Linked DNA regions of Homo sapiens. The protein of the gene in region 1 purifies or fractionates together with the protein of each later gene. This does not show direct contact. Each region holds a gene or a part of one and is shown in the gene's direction. Other genes may lie near its edges. The genes, in order: PPT1, CTSD, CANX, PABPC4, DBH, SLC25A13 and PRDX2.

What was found.
Region 2: the proteins of PPT1 (region 1) and CTSD purify together in Homo sapiens (affinity purification with mass spectrometry, with the first as the bait; 2 studies listed by BioGRID). This does not show direct contact.
Region 3: the proteins of PPT1 (region 1) and CANX purify together in Homo sapiens (affinity purification with mass spectrometry; 3 studies listed by BioGRID and IntAct, with this or other methods). This does not show direct contact.
Region 4: the proteins of PPT1 (region 1) and PABPC4 purify together in Homo sapiens (affinity purification with mass spectrometry; 2 studies listed by BioGRID, with this or other methods). This does not show direct contact.
Region 5: the proteins of PPT1 (region 1) and DBH purify together in Homo sapiens (affinity purification with mass spectrometry; 2 studies listed by BioGRID, with this or other methods). This does not show direct contact.
Region 6: the proteins of PPT1 (region 1) and SLC25A13 purify together in Homo sapiens (affinity purification with mass spectrometry, with the first as the bait; 2 studies listed by BioGRID). This does not show direct contact.
Region 7: the proteins of PPT1 (region 1) and PRDX2 purify together in Homo sapiens (affinity purification with mass spectrometry, with the first as the bait; 2 studies listed by BioGRID). This does not show direct contact.

What each region holds. Positions count from the first base shown.
Region 1 is NC_000001.11:40,079,998-40,083,989, reverse strand, and holds part of PPT1 (palmitoyl-protein thioesterase 1 isoform 1 precursor), read left to right. Parts: intron 1-3,502; coding exon 3,503-3,593; intron 3,594-3,992. UniProt on the Homo sapiens protein: Has thioesterase activity against fatty acid thioesters with 14 -18 carbons, including palmitoyl-CoA, S-palmitoyl-N-acetylcysteamine, and palmitoylated proteins. In contrast to PPT2, PPT1 can hydrolyze palmitoylated proteins and palmitoylcysteine.
Region 2 is NC_000011.10:1,753,928-1,757,919, reverse strand, and holds part of CTSD (cathepsin D preproprotein), read left to right. Parts: intron 1-363; coding exon 364-596; intron 597-2,891; coding exon 2,892-3,014; intron 3,015-3,781; coding exon 3,782-3,926; intron 3,927-3,992. UniProt on the Homo sapiens protein: Acid protease active in intracellular protein breakdown. Plays a role in APP processing following cleavage and activation by ADAM30 which leads to APP degradation.
Region 3 is NC_000005.10:179,705,141-179,709,132, forward strand, and holds part of CANX (calnexin isoform d precursor), read left to right. Parts: intron 1-538; coding exon of another isoform or gene 539-541; coding exon 542-712; intron 713-1,117; coding exon 1,118-1,191; intron 1,192-1,991; coding exon 1,992-2,050; intron 2,051-3,098; coding exon 3,099-3,240; intron 3,241-3,837; coding exon 3,838-3,919; intron 3,920-3,992. UniProt on the Homo sapiens protein: Calcium-binding protein that interacts with newly synthesized monoglucosylated glycoproteins in the endoplasmic reticulum. It may act in assisting protein assembly and/or in the retention within the ER of unassembled protein subunits.
Region 4 is NC_000001.11:39,566,641-39,570,632, reverse strand, and holds part of PABPC4 (polyadenylate-binding protein 4), read left to right. Parts: intron 1-9; exon of another isoform or gene 10-153; intron 154-630; coding exon 631-770; intron 771-943; coding exon 944-1,038; intron 1,039-1,693; coding exon 1,694-1,831; intron 1,832-2,786; coding exon 2,787-2,882; intron 2,883-3,122; exon of another isoform or gene 3,123-3,259; intron 3,260-3,992.
Region 5 is NC_000009.12:133,638,995-133,642,986, forward strand, and holds part of DBH (dopamine beta-hydroxylase precursor), read left to right. Parts: intron 1-851; coding exon 852-998; intron 999-3,212; coding exon 3,213-3,470; intron 3,471-3,992. UniProt on the Homo sapiens protein: Catalyzes the hydroxylation of dopamine to noradrenaline (also known as norepinephrine), and is thus vital for regulation of these neurotransmitters.
Region 6 is NC_000007.14:96,315,489-96,319,480, reverse strand, and holds part of SLC25A13 (electrogenic aspartate/glutamate antiporter SLC25A13, mitochondrial), read left to right. Parts: intron 1-3,992. UniProt on the Homo sapiens protein: Mitochondrial electrogenic aspartate/glutamate antiporter that favors efflux of aspartate and entry of glutamate and proton within the mitochondria as part of the malate-aspartate shuttle.
Region 7 is NC_000019.10:12,798,742-12,803,164, reverse strand, and holds the start of PRDX2 (peroxiredoxin-2), read left to right. Parts: upstream 1-1,364; 5' UTR 1,365-1,425; intron 1,426-1,894; 5' UTR 1,895-1,903; coding exon 1,904-2,006; intron 2,007-2,095; coding exon 2,096-2,249; intron 2,250-2,865; coding exon 2,866-2,988; intron 2,989-3,175; coding exon 3,176-3,306; intron 3,307-4,423. Other genes in the region: THSD8 (thrombospondin type-1 domain-containing protein 8 precursor), read right to left, coding at 946-1,093.

The sequences.
Region 1 (3,992 bases):
CATAGCCTCAACCTCCCAGGCTCAAGCAATCCTCCCACCTCAGCGTCCTGAGCAGCTGGGACTACAGGTGTGAGCCACTACACCCCACTAATTTTTTAATTTTTTTGTAGAGATAGGATCTCATTTATGTTGCCCAGGCTAGTCTCACACTCCTGGGCTCCACTGATTTTCCCTCCTCACCCTCCCAAAGTGCATGGTACCCAGCCCGTTAATGTTCTTAATGGCATCTAGAATGATAAATCCTTTCCATCAGGTTTTCCGTTTACTTTGCCCAGATGCATCAAAGGGATCACTGTCTATGCAGCTACAACCTTGTAAATGTATTTCTTAAATAATAAGACTTGAAAATTGAAATTACTACTTGATCCATGGGCTGTAGAATGGATGTGCTGTGGCAGGCATGAAGACAACATTAATCTCTTTGTACATCTCCATCAGAGCGCTTGGGTGACCAGGTGCTTTTTAATGAGCTGTAATATTTGTTTGTTTTTTGAGTTTGTTTTTAAACTTTTTTTAATTAAAAAAAATAGTTTTTGAGACAGGGTTGTGCTCTCTTGCCCAGACTAGAGTGCAGTGGTGTGATCACAGCTCACTGCAGCCTTCACCTCCTGGACTCAAGCCATCCTCCCACTTCAGCCTCCTGAGTAGCTAGGACTACAGGCATGCACCGCCATGCTCGGCTACTTTTAAAAAGAATTTTCTTTTCTAGAGGTGGGGTCTTGCTATGTTGCCCAAGCTAGTCTTGAACTCCTGGCCTCAAATGGTCCTCCTACCTTGGCCTCCCAAAGTGCTGGCATTGTAGGTATGAGCCACCATGCCCAGCTGCGTGGTAATGTTTTGAAAGGAATCTTTTTTTCTGAGCAATAGGTCTCAACAGTGGGCTTAAAATAGTCAGCAAACCACACTGTAAACAGATCTGCTGTCATCCAGGCTTTGTGTTCCATTTGTAGAGCACAGGCAGAGTAATTTAGCGTAGTTCTTAAGGGCCCTAGGATTTAAAAAATGGTAACCCAGCATTGGCTTCAGCTTCAAGTCATCAGCTCCATGAGGCACTCACAAGAGAGTCAGCCTGTCCTTTGAAGTTTTGAAGCCAGGCATTGACTTCTCCTCTATAGCTGTGAAAGTCCTAGATGGCATCTTCTTCCAATTTAAGACTGTTTCACCTACACTGAAAATTTGTTGTTTATGGTCGCCACCTTCATTAAGTATCTTAGCTAGATCTCCTGGATAACTTACTGCAGCTTCTACATCAGCACTTGCTGCCCCATCTTGCACTCCTGTGTTATGGAGATGGTTTCTTTCCTTGAACCTTACAAACCAACCTCTGCTAGCTTCACACTTTTTTTCTGCAGCTTCCTCACCTCTCTCAGCCTTCATTGAATTGAAGAGAGTTAGGACGTTGCTCTGGATTAGGCTTTGGCTTAAGGGAATGTTGTGGCTGGTTTGGTCTTCTATCTAGACCACTCAGATTTTCTCCATAGCAGCAATAAGACTGTTTTGCTTCCTTATTATTTGTGTGTTCACTGAAATAACACTTCTAATTTTCCTCAGGAACTTTTTTTTTTTTGCATTCTATAAATGTTCAGAGTTCTAAACCTTTAAAAGGTTTCAAATACATGTATAAACACATTCTAGAATGTCACTCTGACTGTTGCTTCCTTTAACTTCAGTCTCATCTGCTCCTGGGAGGGAGAGCTCCATCTCTGACGTAGCTGGCTCTGTTGGGCTTTAGCGCCAGCCTGCTCCACCGAGTGGCGTTTTCAGGACCACTGCCTCTGGGCAGCTCTTCCACTCTGGCTACGGAGCGTATGTTGTAGAAATTTTGATTTCTCTCCCTGCCAACCTGGGATAGAGTTTGTTCGAATTTCCCCATGTGAGGCCTTGGGGTAACCGTGCCCATTTTGAGGAGGTGGGGGCTGGAAGGGAAGAGGAAGTGGAGAGAGATTGGAAAGAAAGTATAAAGAGTCCCCTTTGCTCCAGTTCCCAGCAAGTTCCTCATCTCCATCTGAGACTACCTCAGCCTGGACCTTATTGTCTATATCACTATCAGGCTTTTGGTCAAAGCCATTCAACAAGTCTCTAGAAAGTTCCAAGCTTTCCCACATTTTCCTGTCTTCTTCTGAGGCCTCCAAACTGTGCCAGCCTCTGCCTGTTACCCAGTTCCAAAGTCACTTCCACATTTTGGGTAACTTTTCAGCAGCACCCCACTCTACTGGTACTTATTTACTGTATTAGTCTGTTTTCATGCTACCGATAAAGACATACCCGAGACTGGGCAAATAGAGGTTTATAATGGACTTACAGTTCCATGTGGCTGGGGAAGCCTCACAATCATGGCGGAAGGCGAAAGGCACATCTCACATGACGGTAGACAAAAGAAGAGAGCTTGGGCAGGGAAACTCCCCTCTTAATTTTATTTTCTATTTATTTATTTATTTATTTATTTATTTTTTGAGATGGATTCTCGCTCTGTCTCCCAGGCTGGAGTGCAATGGCGTGATCTTGGCTCACTGCAACCTCAGCTTCCCAGGTTCAAGCGATTCTCCCTCCCTCTGCCTCCCAAGTAGCTGGGATTACAGGCACATGCCACCGTGCCTGGCTAATTTTTGTATTTTTAGTAGAGACGGGGTTTCCTCATGTTGGCCAGGTTGGTTTCGAACTCCTGACCTCAGGCGATCTGCCCGCCTTGGCCTCCCAAAGTGCTGGGATTATAAGCATGAGCCACAGAATCTGGCCCAACTCCCCTCTTTGAAACCATCAGATCTCATGAGACTTATTCACTGTCACGAGAACAGCACAGGAAAGACCCACCCCTGTAATTCAGTCACCTCCCATGACATATGGGAATTGTGGGAGTTACAATTCAAGATGAGATTTGGGTGAGGACACAGCCAAACCATATCAGCATGATAAGTATGATAAACCCCAGTGTCACAGGAGAAGCAAATATTGATGAGTCCTTTGCCTGAATCTTTTATAATTTCTGTACTATGCTGAACAGTCTGTCTCAACAAGGTGTCTTGTTGACAGACTGTTTCCTAGGTGCAAGTCTTGTCTTCTGTATTAAAGGGTAAGGCCTGGGACTTGAGGGCTTTGGCCTTTTGTCCTTGTTTTTTGAGACAGAGTCTCACTCTGTCGCACAGGCTGAAGTGCAGTGCTGCGATCTCAGCTCACTGCAACCTCTGCCGCCGGGGTTCTAGCAGTTCTCCTGCCTCAGCCTCCCAAGTAGCTAGGATTACAGGCGCCTGCCGCCGCGCCTGGCTAATTTTTGTAGTTTTAGTAGAGACGGGGTTTCACCATCTTGGCTAGGCTGGTCTTGAACTCCTGACCTCGTGATCCACCTGCCTCAGCCTCCCAAAGTGCTGGGATTACAGGTGTGAGCCACTGTGCCTGGCTGGCCTTTTGTCCTTTTAAAGTCTCTTGGTGGCCTTTGCACTGAGCATGCCCTGGGCGTACTGACTGACCTGTAGCTTGATCACCTCATTCTTTTTTTTTCCTACAGCCTCGTGCAAGCCGAATACTGGCATGACCCCATAAAGGAGGATGTGTATCGCAACCACAGCATCTTCTTGGCAGATATAAATCAGGAGCGGGTAAGCACCCAAACCGGGCTCCCATAGATGTGCGTTCTTTTTCCTGTTTAGGTCTTCATAAACAAATCAGCAGTGACTGTTTACCCAAACTGTCCTGGGCAGACACTAGGAAAGAGAAGTTCTGTTTTTTTTGGGAGGCAGGGCCTTTGAGATTCAGTTCCCTTTAGGGAGGTTGAAATTCATTTGCCTTTCTTCCCTTAAGTTCTTTCCCTCTCCTAGTGTTGAAACACACAGGATAAGCTCGGCAGGTTGCTGACTGGGCGAGGTGGAAATTCACAGCTGCTGTCTTAATGAGGGAAGCTTTCCTGATGGATCAGTCTGGGGGTGGATTTTTCTCTAGAGATTTACCTAAAAGAGAGATACAGTAGGCACTGAGTATGTCCCAGACACAAACATGGT
Region 2 (3,992 bases), on another chromosome or scaffold:
TGGCCCAGGCTGTGTCTTGTTCCCAGCGCTGAGGGCAGGAGCAGGACCTGCCTGTCATTGGTGGTGGGAGTAAGAGGTCGGAGCAGGGAGCGGAGCAAGGGGCCTGCCCGTCTGTGCTCCTGCCTGGTTCCCATCTCGTGTAAACCGAGCCCTGATGACTTCCACGAAGAGGGCCCCGCCATACCCCGTGTCCCCATCCCCAGCGGTGTTCAGCTCAGGGTTTCCAGCCCTTTCTTCTGGGCCCTCTGGGCCCCATCGTGTGTGGGATGGGCATCCATTGAACTGGGTTTTGTAGCCTCATGCTCAGGGAGTGGTGTAGGGCTCAGCCTGTCTGCTGCCCACTGACTCTGCCCTGGCCTGCAGGTGCCCTGCCAGTCAGCGTCGTCAGCCTCTGCCCTGGGCGGTGTCAAAGTGGAGAGGCAGGTCTTTGGGGAGGCCACCAAGCAGCCAGGCATCACCTTCATCGCAGCCAAGTTCGATGGCATCCTGGGCATGGCCTACCCCCGCATCTCCGTCAACAACGTGCTGCCCGTCTTCGACAACCTGATGCAGCAGAAGCTGGTGGACCAGAACATCTTCTCCTTCTACCTGAGCAGGTGGGCGTGTGGGTTCCCTCTCGCTCCGCGTTGCTGGGAGGCAGGGCGGGGCTGGACGGGGAGCCTTCTAGGCACCCCCTCTCAGTGCTGCCCCCTCCCTGCTGCTGTGCCAGAGCTCCTGACCTCTGACCTCAGGGCATCCGGGAGGCGGGGGTTGGCCGCCCTTCTGCAGAGGAGTAAGCGGCAGCACAGAGAAAGCTGTTTGGCCGGGGTCTCCCAGTGGGAGGGGCTCGGGCCAGGCTGTGGGTCCTGGGACCTTGGCAGCTGGGCCTCCCTCCTATGAGAATGGACCCAGGTCAGGGGTCGTGGCAGTTCCTCTTGGTTCAGTCGGCCCGTCGGTCCCCAGACCTGGTGATGGGCACATGTGGTCCTGGTCCCGGGGTTGCTGATGGTGGAGAGGGTCATGGTGCCCAGGGGACCGGGGATCCCCGGGGAGGTGACCTTGGGTGCGTATGGGTCCCCGGCACCACGCTGCGAGCAGCTCTGTGGGCGTCCCCAGCAGGTGCCGGCTGCCCTCGAGGAGGAACATAGGGGGCCCTTCCTTCTGGGAAAAGGGTTCTCCCCCAGGGCCCCCACCTGCAGCCGCTGCTCCAGCTTGGGTGACCCATGGTCAGGTGACCTTGGGAAGGGGACGTCGGACTCAGTTAGTTTCCTCTTCTCGGGGCAGACCTGAGTGGAGGGTTCCACATAAGAGGGGTGACTGGGGGTTGGGGGCTTTTGTTTTGGGGGTGGGCAGCGTGTCAGCCGGCGGCCTCCTGCCCTGAGCTGCGCCTGGTCACTGCCCCACACTCTCCAGGGCTGACAGGGGCAGGTTTACCTCACGTGGCTCACTTGGCACTTGGAGTCTCTGGGCCTGACCCCTAACCTTGGATCGCTTCCGGCAGAATTCCGGCTGTAGGGCTGGCTGGGCCTCTTTGCTCTGCCCCTTGCCTGGGCAGTGAATACTCCTTAGCAACACCCAGGGCTAAGCTGCTCACTAGAGGCCAGGACACAGGTGAACCGGCTGGGCCATTTCCCCAGGAGCCTTGGGGCACAGGGGAGGCAGCCAGGTGAAAAGGGGTCCCCTGAGGGCAAGAGGGCATGCAGGCATGAGTGCCCACATGGGGAGGGGGCACACAGCCTGAGTACCCAGGTCAGGGAGGGGGACACAGGCATGAATGCCCATGTGGGGGAGGGGCACACAGCATGAGTGCCCATGTGGGGGAGGGGCACACGGTATGAGTACCCAGGTCGGGGGAGGCATACACAGGCATGAGTGCCAGGTGGAAGGAGGGGCACACAGAGTGAGTGCCCAGGTGGGGGAGGTGCACATGGTTGTGAGTGCCCAGGTGTAGTCTCAAGGCAGCAGCTTGGGCAGGAAGTGGAGCCAGGCAGGAGGGAGGGTCTGAGGGCTTCTGAAAGCATGTTTGGTGAGGAGAGGAGGGGTGGGAGGCGCTGATCAGGTTTCTACACTTGGGATTGCAGAGGTGTTGACAAGAGGCAAAGGCGGAGGAGGCTGGAGGAGGGCGGAGGCCCCAATCGGTGTTGGGAGGACTGGGTCAGGCCTGGCACTGCCTCGAGTGACAGGCAGTGGGATGGTGGCCAGCTTAGCTGCAGACGCTCTGGCGGGATGGCAGAACCGCCCCAGACACAGAGAGCTTCTCTACCAGGACCGGCAGGATTTGCTGCGTTGAAAGCTGTACTTGAGCAATGTTTAGAAACAAACCCGGGCGACATGGGTTGCAGGTCCTAGGAAGTGCAGTGCGCTCCTGCCCAGGAGCACCTTGGCTGGCCATCAGTGGTCTGGATGAGGGGGAGATGAGCGGACGTGGCTCGGGGATGCAGGTGGAGGGTGTTCCCAGGAGCAGCCAGTGCAGAGGCCCTGCGGCCAGAACCAGCCATCCCAACTTCCCAGATTGTGCCATCACTCCCTCCTGGAAGCCTTCTTTGGTTTTTTCTTCCAGACAGACAGACAGGGTCCTCCCCAGTGGAGCTCCTGGCACTCACTTCCTTGTCTGCCGCTAGCCTTGACCCTGATGTCTGGCTGAACCTTGGCTCCTGAGCAGACCAGGAGAACCTGAGGGTTGAGGAAAACCTCTTCTGGGCCAGGCTGGGCCCACGCAGAGCAGCCCTACCCCGGGAAGAAGGGAGTCTGTCCCTCCTCCTGCCTTCTGGGCCTTTCCATCCCTGCAGTTTCAGAAAGGCCCCTCCTTCAGGAAGCTCTCCCTGATTGCCACATTCACCCTCTTACTCCTGACCTGGCACTCTTGTGCTTGGGGGGTGGCGTGGCAGCTGACTCCTCCCTTTTCCTCCTAGGGACCCAGATGCGCAGCCTGGGGGTGAGCTGATGCTGGGTGGCACAGACTCCAAGTATTACAAGGGTTCTCTGTCCTACCTGAATGTCACCCGCAAGGCCTACTGGCAGGTCCACCTGGACCAGTGAGTAGTGGCTGCAGTCGGCTCCCCTGGGTTCTGTGGGCGGGGGCGGTGTGCGGAGACCCTGGAGGACCCCGGTTCTGCAGGTGGGGGTTGCATGTGGGGAGTAGTGGGAGCTGGGCAAGAAAGAGATGGGGTCAGACCAGCCCTCCATGCCCCTCCTTGCCCCTCCATGCTCCCCATCACCTCCATCCCCTCTATTCCCTCTATCCCTCCATCCCTCCATTTCCTCCATGCCTCTGTGACTCTCCATGACCCACCATCCCTTCTGTCCATCCCTCCATGCCCTCCATCCCCTCCATCCCCTCATCCCTCTGTGACTCTTCATGACCCTCCATCTCCTCCATCCCTCCATCCCCTCCATCCCTCCATCCCTCCATCCCCTCCATCCCTCCATCCCTCCATCCCCACATCCCTCTGTGACTCTCCATGACCCTCCATCCCCTCCATCTGTCTATCCCTCCATCCCTCCATCCCTCCATGCCCCTCCATCCCTTCATCCCCTCCATCCCCTCCATCCCTCTATGCCCCTCCATCCCCTCCATCCCTCCATGCCCCTCACCACCACCTGAGGGTCTCCCACCCCCTCTACCACTCTGTGTCTCCTCTCCCACCCTCTTCCCTGGAGGGCTTACAGCCGGCTGTGCTTCCAGGAGCCCTGAGGGGAGGAGAGTGCAGCCCAGCCAGGGGAGGGGCTCCCAGGGAGGGGCACTGGGCCCCCAGGGCACACTCCAGTCCCGGCAGGGGCTTCACGCCCTGACTCCCCGCAGGGTGGAGGTGGCCAGCGGGCTGACCCTGTGCAAGGAGGGCTGTGAGGCCATTGTGGACACAGGCACTTCCCTCATGGTGGGCCCGGTGGATGAGGTGCGCGAGCTGCAGAAGGCCATCGGGGCCGTGCCGCTGATTCAGGGCGAGGTGAGCGCCGGGGGCTGGGGCTGGGGCTGGGGCTGGCAGGGGGAGCCCCAAGGCCACCACTACCAC
Region 3 (3,992 bases), on another chromosome or scaffold:
GCTCCCAGCTAATTTTTGTATTTTTAGTAGAGAAGAGTTTCGCCATGTTGGCCAGGCTGGTTGTGAACTCCTGACCTAGTGAGCCACCTGCCTCGGCCTCCCAAAGTGCTGGGATTACAGGCGTGAGCCACGGCGCCCGGCCATCTCTGTTATTTCATTGTAATGTTTTAACGGGTACCCCCTGTAAATTAGTGTATGAAAGGGCTTTTGTCTGTTGTAAAGCACTTTACAAATGCAAAAGTTTGTTGGAAATTGTATTTGAATGCCCCACATCTGTGTAACCAATCCTCTCTATATGAGGATGTTGTGTATGTTTCAGTTTTATTTTGAAATTTTCCAGAAATGGAATCTTTTAACTGATTTTAGGGAAACCCTTTAATCTCTCTAGGCTGCCTTTCTTTATCTATGAAATGAAATAGTAAGTTCTTTTTAGCTCTGCGATTTAAAAGCTTTAATTTTAAATGAGAGAGTGGTTAGTGATCTTCATGAAGTTTGATAGGTGGCAATACATTTAACTGATTTTGCTCTTTATGTGTAGATCATGGAAGGGAAGTGGTTGCTGTGTATGTTACTGGTGCTTGGAACTGCTATTGTTGAGGCTCATGATGGACATGATGATGATGTGATTGATATTGAGGATGACCTTGACGATGTCATTGAAGAGGTAGAAGACTCAAAACCAGATACCACTGCTCCTCCTTCATCTCCCAAGGTTTGAAATGGTCTTTGAATCTATTCCTTTTACGTCTTGAGATGATAAAATTATGAAGATACCCGGGTGCAGGGAAATGTAGTCTCAACTACTCAGGAGGCCTAGGACAGGAGTGTGAGTCCAGCCTTGGCAACACAGGGAGATATCATCTCTAATAAAATATAAAAGAAAAACATGGTGAAGATAAATTTGGAACGTTTTCAAAGGGAAAGCAAAATTCGTGAAAATACTTATTGATCTCTCTGGCAGCCTTTGTCTTGCTAGAGGCCAATTATATGGGTTGAATTTGAAGGCCAGCTATGAAATTTTTGTGACAGTTGAAAGCAAACCAGGAGAATAGATTCTAGATAAAAAGGCATGTTGCTGAAAATTTAAATTTTTAATTCATTTATGTATTTAACACAGGTTACTTACAAAGCTCCAGTTCCAACAGGGGAAGTATATTTTGCTGATTCTTTTGACAGAGGAACTCTGTCAGGGTAAGTGTTTTCCAGAGAAATATATGTTAGAGGCAGACATGTAAATAAGATGGGATAGTAGATTCCTTTTTGGATAGCATCTTTTATAGTGAAATGTCTAACTTTATTTTATTTTATTTATTTATTTTTTGAGACAGAATTTCGCTCTTTTGCCTGGGCTGGAGTGCAATGGCGTGATACCGGCTCATTGCCACCTCCGTCTCCTGGGTTCAAGTGATTCTCCTGCCTCAGCTTCCCAAGTAGCTGGGATTATAGGCATGCGCCACCATGCTGGCTAATTTGTGTGTGTGTGTTGTTATTTTTTTAGTAGAGATGGGGTTTTGACATGTTGGCCAGGCTGGTCTTGAACTCCTGACCTCAGGTGGTCCACTTGCCTTAGCCTCCCAAATTGTTGGCATTACAGGCATGAGCCACCGCACCTGGCCTGAAATTTCTAGCTTTAATATCTTCAGTGTTAACATCCATGCAGGAAAATAGTCTTTTGGAATTTGTGGTTTTTACTTCCACTTCTTTCCCTCCCCCACTCTACCCTATATTTTGTTCTTTGATTGAGGAAAAAAATTTTCTCTTGATGTTAAAACATCAGTGGAATTATCTCATAGGTTTGGTACTTTTTCATATAGGTTTGTGAGTTGAAGATAATGTATTATCATTAGTTGTGTGACAGATTTAAAGGTTGGAAGTAGAGTGGTTAAATAGGCTAAGAGCAGAATAGGTCCTACTTTAATGAGTATTTACATAATTTTCCCTCACAAGTCAACTGTCATTTTAAGACTGATTTTGGGATTTGTTATTTACAGGTGGATTTTATCCAAAGCCAAGAAAGACGATACCGATGATGAAATTGCCAAATATGATGGTGAGAATCCCATTTGGTTTAGATATAATAGCAGATAGAGGTTTGACATGTTGTCTCCATGGCATTTCCTAAGACTAGTTTAAAAGGACATAGTAGGCTTTAAGATTTTTCCAGCCAGGTGCGGTGGCTCACGCCTGTAATCCCAGCACTTTCGGAAGCCAAGGCGGGCAGATCACGAGGTCAGGAGATCGAGACCATCCTGGCTAACACAGTGAAACCCCGTCTCTACTGAAAATACAAAAAATTAGCTGGGCGTGGCAGCGTGCATCTGTAGTCCCAGCTGCTGGGGAGGCTGAGGCAGGAGAATGGTGTGAACCCGGGAGGCCAAGCTTGCAGTGAGCCGAGAACGCGCCACTGCACTCCAGCCTGGGTGACAGAGCGAGACTCCGTCTCAAAAAAAAAAAAAAAAAAAAGATTTTTCCATGGAAGTTTTGCCACCTTTGTGTGTTGCCTAATTTTTTTTTTTTTTTTTTTTTTATTTAAGGTTCAGGGGTGCATGTGTAGCCTTATATTTAATAGGATTAGATCTGTTTAATCACCTGTGCTACTGAATGTTGGAAATTTCTAGACAGTAGTATAATACACTACAGTTTTAAAAAGCCATATCTGAATAATATTTGCCAAATAAAGTGTGTTTATTTATTATTTATTTACTTTTTTGAGACGGAGTCTCATTCTTGCCACCCAGGCTTCTGGAATAGAGTGGCGTGATCTTGGCTCACCGCAACCTCTGTTTCTTGGGTTCAAGCGATTCTCCTGCCTCAGCCTACCGAGTAGTTGGGATTACAGGTGCCCATCACCACGCCCGGCTAATTTTTGTGTTTTTATTAGAGATGGGGTTTCACCATGTTGGCCAGGCTGGTCTCGAACTCCTGACCTTGAGTGATCCGCCTGCCCTCAGCCTCCCTAAGTGCTGGGATTATAGGTGTGAGCGACCACGGCTGCCCCAGTATAATATATTTATGCAACTAGGAGGTGTTTTTTTTGGCATTTAAAGGACCTTCAGAGGTAGAGTTAAGCAGTGGAACTTTTTTGTGTTGTCTTGTAGGAAAGTGGGAGGTAGAGGAAATGAAGGAGTCAAAGCTTCCAGGTGATAAAGGACTTGTGTTGATGTCTCGGGCCAAGCATCATGCCATCTCTGCTAAACTGAACAAGCCCTTCCTGTTTGACACCAAGCCTCTCATTGTTCAGTAAGTGAAATGCTTGTTGGATAAAAGCTTTCTGCAAAGGGTAATCTTAGAAGACATTATGTAACTTTTACTCTATGTTAAAAAATTATGAGATTATATAAGTGGTGGTAGGGATTTTTGGGTGAATTTAAACACCTTGTAATTAATAGTTTTTCCTGGCTAATGCATTATTTTGAAAGAAACTGGTTACTTATTTTCCTGACTCTAAATAACTTGTAGATTTTGCAGAACAAATTTACCGGAAATCTGCATTAATAGTTTTTGTAATTAATTAATTACAAAACTAGTAATTAATAGTTTTTCCTGCCTAATGCATTATTTTGAAAGAAACTGGTTACTCATTTTCCTGACTCTAAATAACTTGTAGATTTTGCAGAACAAATTTACTGGAAATCTGCATTAATGTTCAATTTAATTTTATTTATTTTTGTGGCATTTGATAACTATTCAAAAACAATAGAAGATGGAATCCTTTGTAAGGGTAAACATTTGACCTATGATAAAACGTGACTAAGATGAGGGAGAGAGGAAATACATTAAGAGAGTTTCGATCTTTCAAAATGCCATACAGTTTTCTGCTTTTCTCTCTGATATTAGGTATGAGGTTAATTTCCAAAATGGAATAGAATGTGGTGGTGCCTATGTGAAACTGCTTTCTAAAACACCAGAACTCAACCTGGTATGTAATTCCCATTTCTGGAATGTGGCTGGACACCCACTATTACCTTGTAAGAATTTTGTAATTGGGCCGG
Region 4 (3,992 bases), 510 kb from region 1:
GGAACTTACCAAAGCCATATGGGGAGAAGAAGAGACAATAAGTCTTGGCTATTACAAGCCAAAATAATTTTTGTCCTTTGTGTCATTCAGTATGCCAGAGGATGGGTTATCTTTATAATGTCTGTGTGTGCAGTGGTTGATCTACAGATATCACTAAAAAGAAATACAAAAATGTCAGTGCATGGATAAATTTTCTTTTAAGTATAACAGACCAAAATAAATAAATTTAAAAAGCAAAGGGTGCCCCTTCACTCCAACAATCTCATATCTAGGATTAACCACTGTTAACAGTTTGGTTTGTATCCTTCCAGACCTTTTCTATGCATTTACATAGTTGCACAGAAATGAACATTTTAAAAACATGGCCATCAGGTTTCTTCATGAAGGCAGTGTGATGTGGTAGGAATAGCCCTGGTCTAAGCCAGGAGCCCTGGGGCTGGTCCTCACAGGATAGTCCTGCCTTTTTCTCTTTCTGCTGGGGACTTGGGGTATCTCTGAGCCTCCTTGGTGGTGGATGGGGATCTCGTGTTTTAACCTCTCCTGTCAGTCTTTAACCTGTATTCCTTTGGGTCCCTGGACATCATGTTTTATTCCTCTGGGTAATTACTGTTCTTCATGGTTTCATTTTAGATTTGTGGGCAGATTCAAGTCTCGCAAAGAGCGGGAAGCTGAGCTTGGAGCCAAAGCCAAGGAATTCACCAATGTTTATATCAAAAACTTTGGGGAAGAGGTGGATGATGAGAGTCTGAAAGAGCTATTCAGTCAGTTTGGTAAGTTGGGGTTCCTTGTCTCCTTTCACAGTCTACCAGACCCATCTGTTTTTTCTTAAGAGATGAGGGCACTGCTCCAGAGATTTGCTTCAAGTGAGTTTCCAGAGGGAAGCCTTCTGTTCCTGAGCTGTGCTCAAGATGGTGTTACTAATAGTTCTGTCCTTTGGTAATAGGTAAGACCCTAAGTGTCAAGGTGATGAGAGATCCCAATGGGAAATCCAAAGGCTTTGGCTTTGTGAGTTACGAAAAACACGAGGATGCCAATAAGGTGAGTATACCACAAAGATTGGGAAAAGCTTTTAAGAGGTTGCCCCAGAGTATGGGTAGGGTCTTGCTAGCACCTACCTAGAGCTGGGACGGTCTGAGTATCTGGTAGTAGATGTACCATTACTATACTCTGGGATCATCTTCCTGGGTTCCGCATGTTAACTTCATGTAGGTGTTTACAAAGCACTTGGCACATACCTGTCACCTCAGCTATCAGTTGTTGAAAGAATAGGACAGACGTTTGTTATGCTGCAAAGGTGAGAGAACTAAAGCCCAGTGAGTGCTGATTTGATAACAGCACGGCAGCTACTTGTGGGCAAAGCATTGTGCCAGACCCTCAATATTTATCACTTAAATACCCACAAAAGCACCTGCAGAATTTACTGGCAGCCGGAATATTATATCGCCCTAGGCTCATGTCAGCACACTTGTGTTTATACACCTGTACTATTTCTATATTATCTGGATCAATAACCCATTTAAATATTAACCTCACTTTACAGATGAGGAAGTTTGGATTTGTGTGACAGACTTCAGAGGTGGAGTGAATTTAGTTTTTAGTCCTATAGTAGAAAGAATATTTTTTGGGACTTAGACCTCCAGAATAAGACCCCATCGCTGCAACTTTATTTTAAAGACATATTTTTCCTCTCTAGGCTGTGGAAGAGATGAATGGAAAAGAAATAAGTGGTAAAATCATATTTGTAGGCCGTGCACAAAAGAAAGTAGAACGGCAGGCAGAGTTAAAACGGAAATTTGAACAGTTGAAACAGGAGAGAATTAGTCGATATCAGGTAAGGTGGTCTTGGCCCAGCCTAGCAATGGGATTTGCTGTGAAATATTTGCAGAACACCCCTATGTTTAGCGGGCTTTCTTTTTGAGGACTTGGAGTGTGTTCTTCTTCCCATTTTACCTAAAAAGATGAGGTTTAAAAGGATATATACCTACTACATATGACTGATTATTATAGAACCAGAAACAAGAGATGGGTTTATTCATCAAGAAGCTCTCTATTTTGGAAGCCTCAGCCTGTTGCTTTTAGCCATGTAGGTTCCTTTTACTTAAATGAGACTCCTTTGTTTGGCATGGCTTCAAGAAGACCCCTGCTGGGGTGGGTGAGTGGTCACCAGAACAGCTGTGGGGAGAGGTGACAAAAGGTGAGTGCACTGATGATCCTGTCAGTTTCAGGGCAGTAGTTTCACAACTTTGGACTTGCATCAGATTCATCAGCAGAGCTTGTTAAAACAGATAGCTGGGCTCCAGCCCCAGAGTTTTTCTTATTCATTGGGTTTGGGGTCTGGCCTAAGAATTTCATTTCTTTCTTTTTTTTTTTTTTTTCTTGAGACAGTCTCGCTCTGTCGCCCAGGTTGGAGTGCAGTGGCACAATCTCGGCTCACTGCAAACTCCGCCTCCCGGGTTCGCACCATTCTCCTGCCTTAGCCTCCTGAGTAGCTGGGACTACAGGCACCCGCCACCATGCCTGGCTAATTTTTTGTATTTTTAGTAGAGACGGGGTTTCACTGTGTTAGCCAGGATGGTCTCGATCTCCTGACCTTGTGATTCGCCCGCCTCGGCCTCCCAAAGTGCTGGGATTACAGGCGTGAGCCACCGCGTCCGGCCGAGAATTTCATTTCTAACAAGTTCCCAAAGATGCTGGTGCTCCTGGTCTGGGGCCACCCTTGGGGAACCACTTTCTTAGGGAATATTTGTGATATAGAAGTGTAGTTAACAGTGATCTTTTTCCTTCAGGGGGTGAATCTCTACATTAAGAACTTGGATGACACTATTGATGATGAGAAATTAAGGAAAGAATTTTCTCCTTTTGGATCAATTACCAGTGCTAAGGTATTATACTGCGATCTGGGGATTGAAAGCAGTGGTATTCCATTATAGGCTTATTGGCATTTGTCCCATTGAAGGAATAGCATTTAAATTATGTTCATTTCTGAAAGTAGCTACTACGTTTTTCTAGCAAAATTTCTGGATGCATTCTGGAGAATGACATTTCATTAGGTTAACATTACACTGTTTCCCAAGCACTGGAGTCTGGAGAGGAATTTGACCCAGCCCCTCCTTGCCAACTCAGAGCACCTGAATCTTTCCCATTCCTTGCTGCCTCGTGCCGGTGTGGGGACAGATGGTGCTACAGAATGAGCAGAGGAAATCCAGACAGGTTGTTTTCCATTTGTCTTGGGGCCTGTCTCTACAGCTCTGCCACATTTTCTCCTTGAGAATGAAGGTATTTTGAAGATTTTGGAGGTGGGCTTGGGAACTTCTACCCTGGTCTTAAAAAGAGAGGAAAGGGGAGTGGAAGGTTTTTCTATGTTTCGTAGTGTGCATCATTTGCTTGATTTTCTTTGATAATCATATCAACTAAGTTAGCAGGGTAAGTAGGAACCTCATTTTAAAGATAAGGAATTTTAGTCCTTGAACAAGAGAATGCTGACTACATGGGGATGGTGTACTGCTTGTCCTTGGCACTTTGGGAGCAGGATGGAAACTGGTGCCATCTGAACATTTTGAGTTATGGCCGGATGCAGACGCCGGTCTTGCTAAACAGGTGTACCAGATGCCACAAAATCCTTTAGTTGATGAGAAGGGAAGCCACGTGGGCTGGTAAGGGCTTAGTGGCCCTGCCCTGGCTCTTAGTGGACTTTGCTCCCAACCTGGGAATGTGGAAAGCAATGTTATCAGTTGTAGTAGGGAGTTGGCCAGAGGCCAACTGTGGGTTTGCCCAGTTCTTACCCTTTCGTTTTTGCTATGACCCCCCCCTTGACTGGCCCTCATCAGTGTAAGGAGTGATCTTCTATCCTTGCTTATCTGCCTAGTAGTCAAGTTGGCATTTGTTAAGAGAGCAGAAGAGCCATACCTTGAATTGTCCCCATTTTCATTATGATGGTGTGGCATTTTTATTCACATACCTTACTGGCCCATCTCATTGGTAGAGAGTTATGG
Region 5 (3,992 bases), on another chromosome or scaffold:
CGGAGAATGCAGCAGGTCCAATGCCTCCCTGGGCCTCAGTTTACCTTCTCCAAGCAGGGCTGGGACTAAGGTGAGGGGAACAATGCCTAGGCTGCAGGGTTTAAAGTGGTGCTTCAGGCTGGGTGTGGTGGCTCATGCCTGTAATTCCAGCACTTTGGGAGGGCAAGGCAGGAGGACCGCTTGAGGCCAGGAGTTCAGGACCAGCCTAGGCAACATAGCGAGACCCTATCTCAAAAAAAAAAAAAAAAAAATCCAAAATTACATGTATTTATAAAGTAATAAAGCAGTGCTTGTTCTCAGGGTTGTGCCAGTGCAGGGTGGGCACCTGCTATCAATCACCATCTTAGATGTGGCACCCTGGTTTCTCTCTCCTTTCCTGTTCATGTCCCACCCTGTTCCCAACTCTCCCCTTTCTGAGGCTCCGCAACTCTCCTGCCTGCATGAATGTGGGCAGCATTGGTCTGAGGCATTGTTCCCAGTCTTGAGGAGGCCTTGGGAGCCTCAGGCATCTTCTTAAGAAGCTCAGTGTCCCGCCCGCCAGGCCCGGGAATGCCCATGGCTAACAGAACCTGTGACCTGCTGGCAAGTGACAGCCCTGGTTCCTGGCTGCAGAGGAGGAACCAACTCCACTGTCGGGGCTCATCTCCACTGTCTCCAGGCAGAAATGGAGATAGAAGGTGTGAGTGAAGCCACAGCCCCAGGCAGAACCCTCAGATCCACAGGGACTGAGGCCCAGCATCCCCAGATCAGCTGGCAATGAATGCGGAGCTCTGCCGGGGAATGCCCTCTTCCCCTGTGGATTGGCCCGGCTTGGCTCCTTCATGCCTGGAGCCCAGTGCTTGTCTCTGCAGGACGCCTGGAGTGACCAGAAGGGGCAGATCCACCTGGATCCCCAGCAGGACTACCAGCTGCTGCAGGTGCAGAGGACCCCAGAAGGCCTGACCCTGCTTTTCAAGAGGCCCTTTGGCACCTGCGACCCCAAGGATTACCTCATTGAAGTAAGGGGTGGCCGCGAGTACCCAGGAGGGCGTGGGCTGCGTGTATCATGCTGCCATCCTGTGCCAATGTCATAGTACCTTTCCTGTCCCTGATAAGTCTGGGGCCTGGGCCTGGCCAGCTATGACAGAGAGAAAGCCAAGGAGGATGGCCAGAGGCAGTGGTGGGGCCAAAGCACTTAGGATGGTCCAGCTCTGCTATTGCCCCTGAGCCCTCAAAGACGCAGCTCTTTGCCAACACGTAGCTGACATGGTTTCTAGATGCGGGGCTTGTGCTGAAGCCTCTCCCATTGGACTAGACCTTGCTTCTGGATGTCTCTCTCCTCCTGGTCCTGTTAACCATCAGGTGGGATTCTGGAGCCCAGGCGACCTGGCTTTCCATCCCGGCCCTGTTGCCAGCTCGCTGTGAGGCTCGGGACAACTGCCCCCCTCCTCTGGACCTCACTTTGCCCATCTGTAAAATGGAGATGGGAACTAGATGATCTGTATGGCCTGACCAACTCTGGGAGTTCATGGGAGCCATAAAACATTGTAAAAGCCATAGGCTTCTTATGCTGCTCTAAGAGCCCCCCAACCTCTTAGGGAAAGCAACCCACCTTGCCCTTGAAGACAAAACTCTTTTAACTCTAGCACACCTGACAGCTTTTGTCTTGTGTAAGTAATCCTTTGGTGTGGCAGTGGCCTGGGCTGGCCGTTAGTGCCAGGTCTTAATCATGGGTGTAGCTGAGTGACCACACGGGAGGCCAGTGCCATCGAAAGATTGATTGCATTTCCGGAGAGAAGGGGCACCTGTGCCGTGCAGGGCCACCTGCAGAGCCCTGGGTTTGGTCAGGAGGCAGATGCAGGAGCTAGGGGAGAGCCCAGGCCTGAGGCTTTCTTGGGGTTTCCATGGGAAAGGCCAGGCAGGGCAGGGAAGTTGCTTCATTTGGACAATTCTGGTGGGCTCTGGGTGGCCGGGGTGGTCTCTAGTTGCCTGGTTCCTGGCCCTAGGGTGATTTAGGGCTGAGGCAATATTGGCCTGGTGTGTGACAGTCAGGTGGAGGAGGTGGCTAAGGATATGGGCTTGGGACGGGTTGGAGGGTTGGGAATATGATTCTCACACAAGCGTGAATGTTGGAGGGAAGGGCAGGTGTAAACAACTCTGGCCATCTGTTTGAGCCTGCAATCCATTAATAGATGCCAAATAGACAAATACGGAATCTAAGAAAACAGAACAGCTGGCTGTTTGCCAGATGAGGAAACTAAGGCCCGGAGACGGGGAGTGGATGTACCCAGGGGTTCGGGGTGTGCTGGGGCAGACCTGGTGCCAGAAGAGGTGTTCTTCCAGGAGGTTGTTGAGCCCTTACCCTGCTTCCCAGTGGACGAGGCAAGGGTGAGCAGAGAACCCTCTGGAAGCACCTCACAGGGGGAGGCCAATGCCTGTGTGTGCTCAGCCCAGTGGCCCCAGGCCAGGTATAGGGGCCTTTGCCTGGAGTTCTGGGCGTCCCCTGCACAGGGCGGCCCATCGGCTTTCCGCAAACTCAAAGAGCAAATTAGCCACCCACACGGGTCTGCACTGTGGAGTGCCCAGAAAGCTATGAAAGGCACTTTCCACACCCGATCCCCGTTTCCATTCATGACAGCATGTGAGGAAGCCAGCCCCACAGCTTGCCTCCTGAGTCTGCCTGTGGCCTCCAGCACCGCGTAGATCCATGGAGCTTTCTGTGGCTGCTTGGTCCCCTCCTGCCAAGCTGGTGGTGACTACATAATATAGCGTGGCTCCGCAGCTCAGCGTGACCATCAGCAAGCCCCAGGGTGTTTCCTTCCCTTCATAGAGGGCACTGAATCCTCAGGCTGGGCTGCTGAACTGACCAATGATCCCCCACACCCAGTCCCCAGTGACCTTGGGGTTGGTGGAGGGAACAAATGTTCCGGCCACACTGGCTCACGGCGGGCCCAGTAGTCACTGGTTGAATGGATGTTAAGTGAATGTAGGTGGAATGTGTTTAGAAGAGAAAAGTATTTGATGGCCGGTGCAAATAGGGGATCCTGGGGGTCGTCAGCCCGGGATTTGGCCCCAGCCAGGGCCATGCAAGCCTCAAGGGTCCCTTATTCACAGAGATGAGAGTGAGGTGTGTCACCTGGTAGGTGTGGGTGGGCAGGGATGTGGCATCCTCTCAGGAGCCCAACTCTGGGGGCTCTGAGAGGGCGACCAGCTGAACCCTGTCTCGGCTGCAGGACGGCACTGTCCACTTGGTCTACGGGATCCTGGAGGAGCCGTTCCGGTCACTGGAGGCCATCAACGGCTCGGGCCTGCAGATGGGGCTGCAGAGGGTGCAGCTCCTGAAGCCCAATATCCCCGAACCGGAGTTGCCCTCAGACGCGTGCACCATGGAGGTCCAAGCTCCCAATATCCAGATCCCCAGCCAGGAGACCACGTACTGGTGCTACATTAAGGAGCTTCCAAAGGGCTTCTCTCGGCACCACATTATCAAGGTACGTGCGGGTCCAGGGCCGAGGTCCTCGCCCAGCCCTGCCTTCCTCCCGGGCCTGGGTTGTCCCTGACCCTGGAGAGCTGTCCACAGTCCTGGTTGGACCAGGTGTCCTCTTATCACTGGAACCTCAGGCACCTGCCTGAGCAGGGGAGCAGCAAGTGGTCTTGGCTTCCCCATCACTCTGCTCACTCCCCTACCCTCAAAGGGCCTTGGAGCTCCCACTTCCCTGCCTGGACCAAAGTGACCAACATCTTGACTTCTGCATCTTTCCTTGGGACTGGAACTGCTGTCTGTCTGCCAGGCCACCTCCCCCTTCATGAAAAAGCAGCTCGAGTCAGAACTCACTTGCTCTCGAACACCCGTCCGGGGAAGACAGAATAGCAAAGGCGATAGCTGTCGAGTGTCCACTATGCCACTAGTCCCGGGGGAGGGGCGAGGTGATCCCTCCTTCATCATAAGAGCCCCTAGTTTCCAGCAGAGGAAGTGTGGCCCAGGGAGGTTGAGTGTCCAGGGTCACATAGCA
Region 6 (3,992 bases), on another chromosome or scaffold:
AACCTCTGCCTTCTGGGTTCAAGTGATTCTCCTGCCTCAGCCTCCCAAGTATCTGGGACTACAGGCACGTGCCACCACACCCAGCTAATTTTTGTATTTTTAGTAGGCCAACATCATGTTGGCCAGGCTGGTCTTGGATCTCTTGACCTCGTGATCTGCCTGCCTTAACCTCCCAAAATGCAGGGATTACAGGCATGAGCCACCACGCCCAGCCGAGCAGTTTCTTTTATATGCTGTGAGTGAACGGCATTTGAATCTACCTTGTGACCACAGATATATGTCTGTGGGTTACATAAGGCCATTTCTTATCATGTCCTTCATTATAACTCAATGGCAGTGCAGTAAATGTGGCCTTAAAAGGTCCCTCAATGAAGCTGCTGGTCTAACTTATTCCAAGAATGTCCCTTATTGAACTGCCTTTGGGCATCACCTTTATCGGTTGATTCTGTTGGCAGCCTGAGTTAAAGGCTGTGCTCCTTGCTTTTTCCCTGGAGCATAGCTATTCCATGTTGCCAGCTGAACACAGAGCCATAGGGGTAGGGTTGGCATTCCCTCTTAAAAGTTGAGGAGCCTGGATAGGAGAGGACTTCACCTCAATGGACTGTTAGGAAATTGGGCTGAGACTCTGGGGACTCAGCAACTGTGAGAATTCCAACACTCACTACACTCACTGTGACAAATTGTTTGAATATTTAAGCAGATTTGGTATTTTCTGGATAGATGTAGCCACAACTAGCAATTAGTTTTCTGATCTGTTTCTTTCTTTGGTCTTTATACTTATTTAAATACAGCTAATTATTCATGACCTTCCTTTAAATAGTTTTAATGGGGAGATGGAGAATCTAGTCTTTGGCTGCTTTTTATTTTGAATTTTGCTATGAAGATTACTAGTTAATGGTTCAAGAAGTGTTTGTTTTCTTTCGTGAATGAACATTAATCTAAAACTCTTAGTATTCTGAGATTATCTCAAAAAGTGTCCATTCTCTTGCTGCCTACGTTTGTAGGAATAATCCTTGTGGGTTCCCTTGTTAGATCTGCCTGTACTGTTTGCGTTGTTTGAATATTTCTTTTAAACATTTCCCAAAACTGCCATAAAAAAACAGTTTTAAAAGGTGGTAATTGAGAGGTCACCCTTTTCTTCGTCTCTGCCCTTTTCTTGGTTAAAGGAGAGCTTTCTTCTTCGTCATTGGTTAAATTTATGCGTTACGAATGATGTAATTAACCTATATGAACCTACTAAAAGTTAGAATATGCTCCCTTGAGTTCAGACCTGTGAGATGTTCTGGGGTAAAACTGAACACAGACCAATATTAGCCTAGAACCAAAAGAAGGAAATTTGGGGGCACATTAAAGCATTAATAATAAAGACAATTTGGTCTGTAGGACTAGTACACTTTGTATTGACTTTTCATTCTTGGATGAGTTGTTGCTGTGATCATTGATTCATTTATGTGTATTGTGTTCTTTCCAGTGTTGCAAATGGGACAAAATTGAGAATACTAAAATGAATTGTTAGCTGGGCATGGTGGCACGCATCTGTGGTCCCGGCTACTTGGGAGGCTAAGGCAGGAGGATCACTTGAGCCCAGAAGGCAGAGGTTGCAGTGAGCTGAGATAGCACCACTGTACTCCAGCTTGGGTTACAGAACGAGATCCTGTCTCAAAAAAAAATAAAATAAAGTAAAATAAAATAATAAAATAAAATAAAATAGAATAAAATAAATAAAATGAATTGGACTCCATTTTGATGTTCAAGAAAACCAAAACCATTCCAGGGGGCTAAGTTCTCTGATGGAAATGCTCCCACTACAAGGTTTGTGGGAGCAGTAGGAGAAGAGCCCATTTCTGAGGAGATGAGGGAAGTCTTCTGAAAATTGCTAGTATTTCAGAAGGAATGGATGGGGAAGAGTAAAGATCCAATCCAGTGGTTGGAAACAAATGAAGGGCTGGGAGGTGAGAGCACAGGCTACATTTAGTTAACAGCAGGTAATAAAAACTAAAAGCAGCTGACACTTACTGAGCGCTTACTAGATACCAAATTCAGTTCCAAATGTGTTTCATTGTTGATTCATTTAAAATTCAGTTCCAACTGTGTTTCGTTGTTGATTCATTTAATGCCTCAGCCTTTTGAGTTAGTTACTATCATCCTTTTTTTATAGATGAAGGCTCTGAGATACCAAGAGGTGATGTTAGTGGCCTAAGATCTGATAAGTATGGCTGGGTACGGTGGCTCACACCTATAATCCCAGCACCTTGGGAGGCCGAGGCAGGTGAATCACCTCAGGTCAGGAATTTGAGACCAGCCTGGCCAGTCTGGCCCATCTCTACTAAAAATAGGAAACAATTAGCCGGGCATAGTGGTGCATTCTTGTAATCTCAGCTGCTCGGGAGGCTGAGGTAGGGGAATTTGCTTCAACCTGGGAGGCGGAGGTTGCAGTGAGCTGACGTCGTGCCATTGCACTCCAGCCTGGGTGACAGAGCAAGACTCTGTCTCAAAAAAATAAAATAAAATAAAAAAGATCGGATAATTAGGAAATTATCGAGCTGGGGTTCAAATCCTGCCAGTCTGGCTCCAGCAGCTGTGGCCTCACTCTGTCCACCATGTGTGCCTGGTAGTTTAGTGTGGTGGAGAATAAAGTATATGGGAGAGGTGTGGGAGATGACTTAGGAGAGGGGTAGGTGTCTCAGTGTAAACCAGACTTTTATTTGAGAACTGCCTTACCTAGTGCTTTTTGCATGCCAGGTACTTTTCCAAGAGCCTTACAAATAGTAACTCAATTAATTTTCTTAATTCTAAGAAGTAGGTGCTTTCTGTTTTTGACTTCAACTTACAGGTGAGAAAACTGAGTTAGGGGAGGTTAAGTAATTTCTCACGCTTGTGCAACAGGTAAGTGCTACAGTCTTGATTTGAACCTTGCCAATGTGTCTTCAGAGTCTCTGCTCTTAACCTCTGCGCTGCTCTCCCAGGTCTTACCAAGAGTTCCATTTGCGAAGGTGTATGTGTGAGAGTTCACATGCCATCGGGTATGGATGTGTATATTTCCTGATCATCCCAGTCCAGTAGTTCTTATCTTAGAACACCTTTGTCACTCTGTATATGCTTCATTTCAGTGTTTATTAAGTGTATTTCTCATCTCTCCAACCAGATCGCAAATCCCTGCAGGACAGGAATTGTCATATACCTTTTATTTAATTGCTTTATTGAGATATAATTCAAGTACTATACAATTTACCCATTTAAAGCATATGATTTATTGGTTTTCAATATATGCACAGAGTTGTGTAACTGTCACCACTGTCATATACCTTTAATCCAGTTTCCATTAGGATTTGGACTATAATATATATATATATATTTGGGACAGGGTCTCACTCTCTCACCCAGGTGGAAGTGCAGTGGTGTGATTATTGCTCACTCTAGCCTAGACCTCGTGGATACAAGAGATCCTCCCACCGCAGCCTCCTGAATAGCTAGGACCTCAGGCACACACCACCACACCCAGCTAATTAAAATTTTTTTTTTTTTTGTAGAGACGGGGGTCTTGCTATGTCGCCCAGGCTTTGGGCTGTATATTTAACCTCCATGTCTTCCACATTGTTCACCCATCATAAAACCCTCTTCAGAGGTTTGTCATTGAGGATAAAATATATTGAGGTTATTAAAGATATTCTTCAAATGGCAGGGTTTTTTCTCCCCTATGTAAAAACTCTACTAAGTATTTGGTGATATCATAATAAAACAAATCAGTTTTTGTGCTAGGAATGGAGGAAAGAAGGTTTGAGTTGTTTTTATGCTACCATGATGATGATTATTAAAACAAATATCTATGGCTCCACTGTTTGGGTTTTAGGGGTTCTTATCTTGTTGGAGCTGGATGGCCTTGGAATTTATGTTAACACAATGATCTTTACTCTTTCCTTCCTCAGTCCTGTCCCCTTTTACCAGGAGAGTCCTAGAAATGGAGTCCCAGAAACATTTGTTATTGGTCCAAA
Region 7 (4,423 bases), on another chromosome or scaffold:
TCCTGTATCAGCCTCTTGAGTAGCTGGGACTACAGGCGCATGCCACCATGGCAGGCTAATTTATTTTTTATTTTTATTTATTTATTTATTTTTGTAGAGTAGGGGGTCTCTCCATGTTGCCCAGGCTGGTCTTGAATTCCTGGGCTCAAGCAGTCCTCCCGCCTCGGCCTCCCAAAGTGCTGGGCCATCAAGTCAGGCTAATTTTAAAATATTTTTTGTAGAGATGGAGTCTTGCTGTGTGGGCCAGGCTGGTCTGGTCTCCGAGACCAAGGGATCCTCCCACCTCAGCCTCCCAAAGTGCTAGGATTATAGGCGTGAGCTACCGCGCCGGCCACTGTGATCACTTTAAAGGGCTCTTTACTGAATCTGCCCCTTTCCCCTATGAGACAGATCTTATCCCAACTCCGATCTTATCCCAACTCACCGCTCACCAAGGTCTGACACCTCCTACCCTCCCACACCCATGTCTCTGCCACACCTCACCGACCTCTTTCCATTTCTCCTTCAGGACTTTTCACCTTGGCATTTGCTATTCCCTCTTCCTTGGACATTCTTTCCCCAAATCTTTCCATATGGGACTTTCGCTTGTCGTTCTCGCTGCACTGGTCACGGGTCTTCTGCAATCGGACCCTCTCTGATTTCCCAAGCTTGCCCGCCCCCTTCTTTCTCTGTCTCTGCCCTTCCTGGCACCTATCCCCGAGTGACAGCTTCAGTGTCCTGCCCACACCCTCTCTTCCCCTGGGAGCTGCTTTAAAGCAGTATCTATTTCAATATATCCAAGAGTAAACCGAGCCTTAGAGAAAAGTAACCAGCCCAAGGGGACGCCTCCAGTGCGGAGCTGGGTGGAGATTTGCAGCCCGCCGAGGAAGGTCCCTTTGCAGCCAGCAGGAGAAGTAGGGCAACGGGGAGCCTTTGGGCATCGTCATCCCCGCCGCCTGAGGTTACCCTTTAGATGCTGCAGCCTCAGCTGCTCCCAGCTGTCACCTTCGCCCTGCTGCCCTAAGTACTGATAGTCCTGGTAGACCAGGGCAGGGGTCGCCAGCTGCAGGAGTAGCAGAGGCGCCAGCAGCAGCGCCCCCGGGGTCCGCGCCATGCTGGACTCCAACGGCCCCCAACGCGCTCCCAGGCGGAGTCGTGCGCGGAGTCTGCGGCGGGCGCATTACCCACGCGGGCAGGTGCAGTGGTCCCGGCCGAAGGCAACGCGTCTCCCCCCGCCGCCCGCAGGCGCATGGACCCGGCCGCACGCTCCCCCGCACCTGCGGGCGCAGTGGACCCGACCGCTCCGCTCGTCCGCTCCCTCCCCCGCGCCGTGCACGTCTTGGTTCGGGCCGGGCATAAAAGGCTTCGCGGCCCAGGGCTCACTTGGCGCTGAGAACGCGGGTCCACGCGTGTGATCGTCCGTGCGTCTAGCCTTTGCCCACGCAGGTATGAACACCCGGAGTGCACCTGGCGGGAGGACCCCCTTCAGGCTGCTTTGGCCCGATCCTGACTTTAGTGCTGGCCGCCTTTGCTTTCCATCCGCTATAGTGGCCTCCTTTGTCCTTGCGGGGGAAACCGAGGCCACAGCCTTGCAGCGCAGGCCTGATCGCCCGACTTCCCGCCCCCTGCTCGTGCGGGCCTCACTGTCTCCTTCTGGGCTGGGGGCTTGCGACACCGCCCTCCGGCCGACTCGCTCGTGGGGTGCTGGTGGCAGTGGCTGGGTCACTCGTGCTCTGGTCAGGAGAGCGGGTCTCCGGCAGCCTCCGGGCCTCGTAGACCGGGTACCCGGGAGGGTGAGGGTTAGTGCTGTCGCCTCCGCCGTGCTGACTCAGTCATAGGGCCCAGCACGCAGCGCGACCTTGGGTTGGGAGGACAAAGTGTCTTCCCGGGCGCACTGACCGGGCGGGGGTCTCAGCTTTCAGTCATGGCCTCCGGTAACGCGCGCATCGGAAAGCCAGCCCCTGACTTCAAGGCCACAGCGGTGGTTGATGGCGCCTTCAAAGAGGTGAAGCTGTCGGACTACAAAGGTGAGCGCCGCCCGGAGGGGGCCCAGGTAGAAGCGGGGCCGTGCATGAGAGAAGCTGGGCCCTAACTCCTCTGTGTCCCTCCTCCCCAGGGAAGTACGTGGTCCTCTTTTTCTACCCTCTGGACTTCACTTTTGTGTGCCCCACCGAGATCATCGCGTTCAGCAACCGTGCAGAGGACTTCCGCAAGCTGGGCTGTGAAGTGCTGGGCGTCTCGGTGGACTCTCAGTTCACCCACCTGGCTTGGTATGAGCAGGGGCCAAAGAGGGAGGTTGCAGCTAAGCTCACACCCTCAGGTCCTAGCAGTGTGGCTTCGTGGCCATTGCTCAACCTCTGGAACCTGCGTTTCCCCATCGTGAAAATAATGGAAACATTGCCGCCCAAGTCTTTAAGGATGATGACAGTAATTAGCATTTGACAACTAGTTGCCTGGTATATAGAGTTGCAGATGCAACTCAGATGCAACTCTATCTACTCTATGTACTTAGTTCCCAGGAGGGAGGCTGTGCTGCCCTATTTCATGAAGATGGAAACTCCAGTTCACCGAAGTGAAGGGCTGTACCCCATGACACAGCTAGAGGAGGATGGGGACTCTTAACACAGGCTCTCTGCTGGGTGATGCTGCAAGTTACAAGTACATGTGAAGCCACTTAGCTGGAGCTGTGCCTCTCAAACTCAGTCTTCCCAGCCATGGGGATACAGTCCTTGCACCCAACCCAGGGTGGGGTGGGTGAGGCTCCCAGCGGCCTACTCTAAAGCCCCTTATCTCCGGCCTCCAGTGCTTATCACATTGGGCCCACAGGGTGAGGACCCTGCTGTGCCAGGCATCCTGAGGCCCCAACTCTGTCTCCCCTACTCCCAGGATCAACACCCCCCGGAAAGAGGGAGGCTTGGGCCCCCTGAACATCCCCCTGCTTGCTGACGTGACCAGACGCTTGTCTGAGGATTACGGCGTGCTGAAAACAGATGAGGGCATTGCCTACAGGTACTGTGGGACCCTCAGCCCGGCTCAGGGAGCGCCCTGCCCCCCATTCCTGTGATGCTGGGACCACTCCTGTACAATGTCTTCTCTGCCCCCAGCCCTGTGGCTAGCAGCGGGTGGTTGGTAGTCCCTTCCTTGTCTCTGGCAGTGGGAGCTATCAGCTCCTCACTGGGAACCCTGATGTCTTCAGGGGCCTCTTTATCATCGATGGCAAGGGTGTCCTTCGCCAGATCACTGTTAATGATTTGCCTGTGGGACGCTCCGTGGATGAGGCTCTGCGGCTGGTCCAGGCCTTCCAGTACACAGACGAGCATGGGGAAGGTGAGCAGATACACACATGACACATGGGTACATACTGAGCGCCTCCGTCACTCATGCAAACATTCACTGCCTGTCCTCTTACCTGTCCAGATGGGTGTTAGGGCCCCAAAGAAGATTCAGCTCAGGGCTTTGTCTGCAGGATGTTTCTAATGTGGTAGGAGACAAATAACGCCTGACATTCAACCAAGGTGGACAAAGGGGCCGGGCTCAGTGGCTCACGGTTGTATTGCCAGCACTTTGGGAAGCTGTGGCAGGTGGATCACCTGAGGTCAGGAGTTCGAGACCAGCCTGACCAACATGGTGAAACCCCGTCTCTACGAAGAACACAAAAAATTAGCTGGCCGTGGTGGTGCACACTTGTAATCCCAGCTACTTGAGAGACTGAGGCAGGAGTTCGCTTGAACCCAGGAGGCAGAGGTTGCAGTGAGCTGAGATCGCACCGTTGTACTCCAGCTTGGGCAACAGAGCAAAACTCAGTCTCAAAAAAAAAAAAAATTAGCTTGGTTTGTGAAGCATGCCTATAGTCCCAGCTACTCAAGAGGCTGAGGCTGGAGGATCACTTGAGCCTGGGAGGTCAAGGCTGCAGTAAGCTGTGATCGCACCACTGCACTCCAGCCTGGGTGACACAGCAAGACCCTGTCTCAAAAAAACAAACAAACAGGCCGAGCGCGGTGGCTCACGCCTGTAATCCCAGCACTTTGGGAGGCCGAGGCGGGCAGATCATGAGGTCAGGAGTTTGAGACCAGCCTGGCCAACATAGTGAAACCGCGTCTCTGCTAAAAATACAAAAAAATTAGCTGGGTGCGGTGGCAGGTGCCTGTAATCCCAGCTACTTGGGAGGCTGAGGCAGGAGACTCCCTTGAACCCGGGAGGAGGTTGCAGTAAGCCGAGATCACACCACTGCACTCCAGCCTGGGCGCCAGTGTGAGACTCCATCTCAAAAACAACAACAACAAAAAAACCTGTAGGGGTGGGGCAGAGGGACAAAGATGGGACTAAAGGAGCCAAAAAGACAGGAAGATGCTGTGTCTCATGCCTGTAGATGCTGTGTCTCATGCCTGTAGTTCCACCTACTCTGGAGAGTGAGGCAGAAGATTGCTTAGGCCCAGGAATTTGA